2 separate regions of the Homo sapiens genome follow, and region 2 is linked to region 1. The links come from fine-mapping of genetic effects on gene expression. Tissue or cell type: whole blood. Region 1 holds a variant in brackets; the other region holds the start of a gene. All regions are shown on one strand. Distances are between the middles of the regions.

The links. PIP is the estimated chance that this variant, and not a neighbour inherited with it, causes the effect.
Region 2: it holds the start of GNG7, and the variant in region 1 is fine-mapped to the expression of GNG7 in whole blood (TOPMed, PIP 0.96).

The regions. Positions count from the first base shown.
Region 1 is chr19:2,675,448-2,678,197 of GRCh38, reverse strand. All of the region lies in intron 1 of GNG7 (G protein subunit gamma 7), which reads left to right. Among named protein-coding and RNA genes, the nearest start is that of GNG7, 26 kb to the left of the region's middle. RefSeq lists a silencer at 1-116. The variant T/C (reference allele first, on the strand shown) is at 1,417.
Region 2 is chr19:2,701,067-2,703,816 of GRCh38, reverse strand. GNG7 (G protein subunit gamma 7) reads left to right here and starts at 1,123. Exons shown (of 5, transcript NM_052847.3): 1 at 1,123-1,171. RefSeq lists a silencer at 838-1,227.

The DNA.
Region 1 (2,750 bases):
TCTTGCTGTGACAGTGTTGGCGTCGGCCACCGCCACCTCCTCTTCCACTCAGGGCCACAGTGGAAGGTCTGGATGCCTGGTGTTCTGTTTTCCTAAGGCTGCTGAACCCTAACTAACATCCACACAGAGGCCACTGGTGGTCAGCACAGGTGGCAGGGTTAGAAAGGTTGGGACTGGCTTTGTCCTTTGAGTCAGAGGGACAGTCACACTCATGTTTGTGTGACCATATGCATGTGGCTATGGTCAGTCCTATAGATTATGGCAGCGGTTATCACTCTCTGTCACTGTGGACCTTGGGGCCAGATCGTTCTCTGAGGTGGGGCCATCCTGGGCACTGTAGGGTGCTGAGCAGCGTCCCTGGCCTCCACCCACTCTATGCCAGGGACACCCCGAGTTGTGACAACCAAAGATGTCCCCAGACATTGCCCAGTGCCCCATGGGGGGCAGAATCACCCCCAGGTGAGACCCCCGGGGGTTAGGGGATTCCACAGATCCCCAAGAAACTCTGTGTCTCATGATCCTCTGTCCTCCTGAGGTTCCAGGAGGCTGCACACATTGTAATCCACACCCTGAGTGGGGAGGGAGAGAGGAGGAGAATCGCAGGAGCTGGGGCCCCCCTTGGTTTCTGCCATCCACCCCATCGGGAATTTTTTCTAGTGTCTGGTGTCAACAGGGAGCAGATACAATATTTTTCCAAATAATTAAGGCAGAGTCTCTCCCCCTTGGCATTCAGGGCTGGGTCGTTCTCTGGGGTGGGGTTGTCCTGGCCACTGCAAGGTTCTGATCAGCATCCCTGGCCTCCACCCACTCCACGCCAGGAGCATCCCTGAGTCATAACAGTCACAAATGCCCCCAGACACCACCTAGCATCCCCTGGGGACCAGAAGGACCCCTGGTTGAGAACCACGGTTGTATAGAAAGGAATTGAAGCAAAAAAAAAAAAATGGAATTCTCTGCTCCCCTGTGGCATCCTGTTGATGGATTAGATTCAGCCTCCATGCTCCAACACCGAGCTCAGCGTCTCCTGGAAGGCCCTGTCTCCAGAGGACGTTCCCAGATCCTGCTCCCTGGAAGAATTCTTGCGAGCATATATGCAAGTGTAATTAAGCGGCCGTTTTTCCTCTGTGGTGACACAGATTTGGGTCTGCAGTAAAGATATGGAGTCCCTTTAGAGCTGAGAGCCGGATCACGGCCAGGAGAATGCCTTGCTTTGAGATTCTCTGGGAATCGGGAGTCCTGCCTGGGTGGAAATCAGCCCTGGACAGGGAGGGAATGTGCAGATCGGAGCAAGTGGCTTGTTTCTTCCTGGCAACCCCAGAAGCTGTCTGAACAGCTTCTCTCTGCCACACATCTCTTTGAGTCTTGCACCCGCCCGGCTGAAAATTACACCCAACTCCTCCAGCCGGGTCTAGGAAG[T/C]GGTGCAAGCTCCTGAACCTCCATCTGCAGAATAACTAACTAGCTGTTCCTGAAAACCACCAAAGAGGCTGGGCGCGATGCCTCACACCTGTAATCCCAGGACTATGGGAGGCCGAGGCGGGAGGATCACTTGAATCTGGGAGTTTGACACCAGCTTGGGCAACATGGTGAAACCCCATCTCTACAGAAAGCGAAAACAAAAATTAGGCAAGCATGATGGTGCGCGCCTGTGGTCCCAGTTCCTTGGGAGGCTGAGGTGGGAGGATCGCTTGAGCCAGGCGGTGGAGGTTGCAGTGAGCTGAGACTGTGCCACTGCACTCTAGCCTGGGCGGCAGAGATATATCGCTGAGGGTTTGACGGACACTTCTAGATGGAAATCAATGTCTATCTGGTGCCTTGGGGGCTGTGCATGTTCACGAGGAGGGTGTCTGAACATGCCAGGATGTGGGTGCCTAGGGGAGGGTCTCTGTGGGGTGAAGTTTGGATATTTGAGGGCGCCCATGGAAAATGACTTCAACCTGCATGGCTCAAAACCACAGAAATGGATTTTCTGGCAGTTCTAGAAGCCAGAAGTCTGAGACGAAGGTGTGGGCAGGGCCGTTCCCGGCCCAGAAGCTCCCGGGGAGGATCCTTCCTGCCTCTTCCAGCATCTGGCAAGTGGCCGGCGGTTCTTGGCGCCCCTGGGCTGGTGACATCGCTCCAGTCTCTGCCTCCATCCTCACACGGCCCCCTTCCCTGTGTGGGTCTGTGTCCAAATTTCCCTCGTCTTATAAGGACATCAGTTATTGGATTTAGGGCTCATCTTAATCCAGCACAACCACATCTTAATAATAAGTCCATCTGCAGAAACCCTGTTTCCAAATAAGGTCCCATTCTGAGGCATCTGGCTCAACAATATTTTCTTCCAAATAATTAACTTTGAGTCTCTTCCCCCTGGTGCTGTGGACATTGGGGCTGGATCATTCTCTGGGGAGGGGCCATCCTGGGCACTGCAGGGTGCTGAGCAGTGTCCCTGGCCTCCACCCACTCCATACCAGGAGCTCCCCCCAATCGTGAAAACCACAGATGTCCTCAGACCTCCCCCGCCCCATTGAGACCCCCAAGTGTCGGGAATATCTTTTCTGTTTTCATATGTTTTTCTTTGTATCTTATAGGATCCTGGGGAAATATTTCCCCCAGCAGTCCCTCATAGGAGCCAATTTAGGTCATCGCTGTCCTTCAGAACTGTCCTCTGCAGAGGGGCCGCGACATCTGATATTCTCTACTCTTTAACCAGCCTGGTTTGCTAAATAACGCTCCCTGCTTCTTTACCGTCAAGCGACCTCTCCTGCTCG
Region 2 (2,750 bases), 26 kb before region 1:
TGTGTACTGCTTTTGGAGACATACAAAGTGTTTTCCAATATTCCCAAGGGAGCTTGTGGAAAATGAAGATTCCAGGCCTGTAATCCAAGCATTTTGGGAGGCAGAGGCAGGAGAATCACTTGAGCCCAGGAGTTCAAGACCAGTTTGGGCAACATAGCAAGACCCCATCTCTAACAAAAAAAAATTAGCCAGGGCCAGGCACGGTGGCTCACGCCTGTAATCCCAGCACTATGGGAGGCCAAGAAAGGTGGATCACCTGAGGTCAGGAGTTGGAGACCAGCCTGGCCAAAACGGTGAAACCCTGTCTCTACTAATAATACAAAAATTAGCTGGATGTGGTGGTGCGTGCCTGTGGCCCCAGCTACCCGGAAGGCTGAGGTGGAAGGACTGCTTGAGCCTGGGACTTCAAAGCTGCAGTGAGCTATGACTGCACCACTGCAGTCCAGCCACGGCAATTGAGTGATACCCTGTCTCAAAAACAAAACGAAAACTAAACAAAACACAGATTTCAGGGTCCAGTTCCCTATAGGATTCTGGTTCATTCCATCTGTGTTGGGGCTCAGGAATTTGTGGATCCAGGGCCATGAGTTAGGAAACTGAGAAATCTTGGAAATGATGAGACAGGCTTGGGCAAATGACCTTAGGTTTCACCTTTCTGAGACCCAGTTTCCACCTCTGTAAAATGTGGATAGTAATCTCGCCTTCTGGCCTTATGCGGAGGGTCCCACGAGAGGGAGCCTATAAAGTCTTCAAGAAAGCGGTGCAGCAGTTATGATCACTGACATTCTTCCCCAGCAAATGAGCCCCCGGAGCTGGCATGCAGGATTCGAACCAGCTCACCTAGCGCGGGATTCGAACTCGCGAAACTACTCGCGCCTTCCTGACGTCACGAAGTCACCCTGGAAAGCCGCTCTTCGCCCCGCCCCCGGCCCCGCCCGCGCCCGGAGCCCCGCCCCACTCTCCTGGGCGCAGCCTACCCCGCTGCCTGCCCCGCGCCCCGCCCCCGCTCCGGCCTCCCGCAGCCGGGGCTCGCGATTGGCCTTGCCGGGACGCCAGGGCCCGCCCCCCGAGTGTCGGCCCCGCCCCCGCAGAGGGGAGCGAGCGCTCGCGGGCCGGGGCGGAGGGTTCGGCTGCGCGGCGGGGCTGAGGCGGCCGCGGGGCCCGAGCGCAGGTAAGGGCGCCCGCGAACCGGGCCAGGGGAAGTGAGGGCGCGGCCGGCGTCCCGGAGAGGGGACTGGGACAGCTCGGATTCGGCTGCGGACCGAGTTGGGGGTCGGAGTCGGCTGAGGAGGGGGGCTGGGTCTGGGGACCCGGGCTGCAACTGGAGGCTGGGGTTGGAATTGGGGACGGGGCTGCGCTTAGGGGGTCGAAGTTAGCTGGGGAGGGGCTGGGGTTGGGGATTGGGACTGCACTTGGGGCTCAGGGCTAGCTGGGGAGGGGGCGGGAGTTGCAGGTCGAGGTTAGCTGGGGACGGGGCAGGGGGTGCAGATCGAGGTTAGCTGGGGAAGGATTGGGTCTGGGCATTGGGACTCCACTTAGAAATCAGGGCCAGCTGGGGAGGAGGCTGGAGTTGCAGGTCCAGGTTAGCTGGGGAGGGGGCTGGAGGTGGGATTGGAGGTCTGAGTTAGCTGAGGAGGGGGCTGGGGGTGAGACTGGAGGTCTGAGTTATCTGGGGAGGGGACTGGAGTTGCAGGTCGAGGTTAGCTGGGGAGGGAGCTTGGAGCGGGATTGGAGGTCTGAGTTGGCTGGGGAGGGGTCTGGAATTGCAGGTCCAGGTTAGCTAGGAAGGGGCTGGTGGTGGAATTGGAGGTCTTGAGTTTGCTGGGGAGGGGGCTAGAGTCGCAGGTCGAGGTTAGCTGCCGAGGGGGCTTGGAGTGGGATTGGAGGTCCAAGCTAGCTGGGGAGGGGGCTGGAATTGTAGGTCGAGGTTAGCTGGGGAGGGGGCTGGAAGTGGAATTGGAAATCTGAGTTAGCTGGGGAGGACGCTGGGGATGGTGTTGGGGGTTGAGGTTAATTGGAGCGGGGAACAGGGGTTGAGTCAAGGGTGCAGCTTCTTTGAAGAGGGAGCTGGGAGTGGGGTTGAGGTTTGCAGGGAGCTGGAGAGGGGGCTGGGGATGGAGTTTGAAGTGGGGTTCATTGGAGAGGGGGCTGCAGAGGGAATTAGATGTTGAGGTTGTCTGGGGAGAGGACTGAGGAATGGGGTTGGTGAAGATGGGGGGGTGTGATTGACGGCCCAGGGGTTAGGGTTAGCTGAAAAGGGGCAGAAGGACAAAGCTGGGGTGAGCCAGGGAGTGGCTGGAGCATACAGGTGGGGGTCAGGCTTGTTCCAGAAAGGGTCTGGGGGCTATCAGGGGAAATGGGGAGCTTGTGAGTGTGTGGGGTGGAAGGGGGTTCAGGGAGAAGGAAGTTGGGGTGAGTTAGTGAGAAGGGAGGTGGGGGTAAGGTCCCAGGCTGGAGACACCTGGGGGCAGGTGTTTTGCTAGACATTGACTAATCAGGAGGAAAACGGGGTGTGGGGAGGTGTCTCAGGTAGGATCCAGTTAAAAGGAATTTGGAGAGGACTCACCCCTCTACTTTTGGGGGAGATGTTAATTGTTTGCTCTAGAACTGGGCACGGGGCAGAACCCCCTGGGGAACAGTGAGTTGAAGGAGACGGGAGTTCGGAATACTTTTTGAGGTTTATTTCTAGGATATAGGGTGCCAAGGAGAACGCTTCAGGAAGGAGAAAGGCTCCTGTCGGTGACTGAATT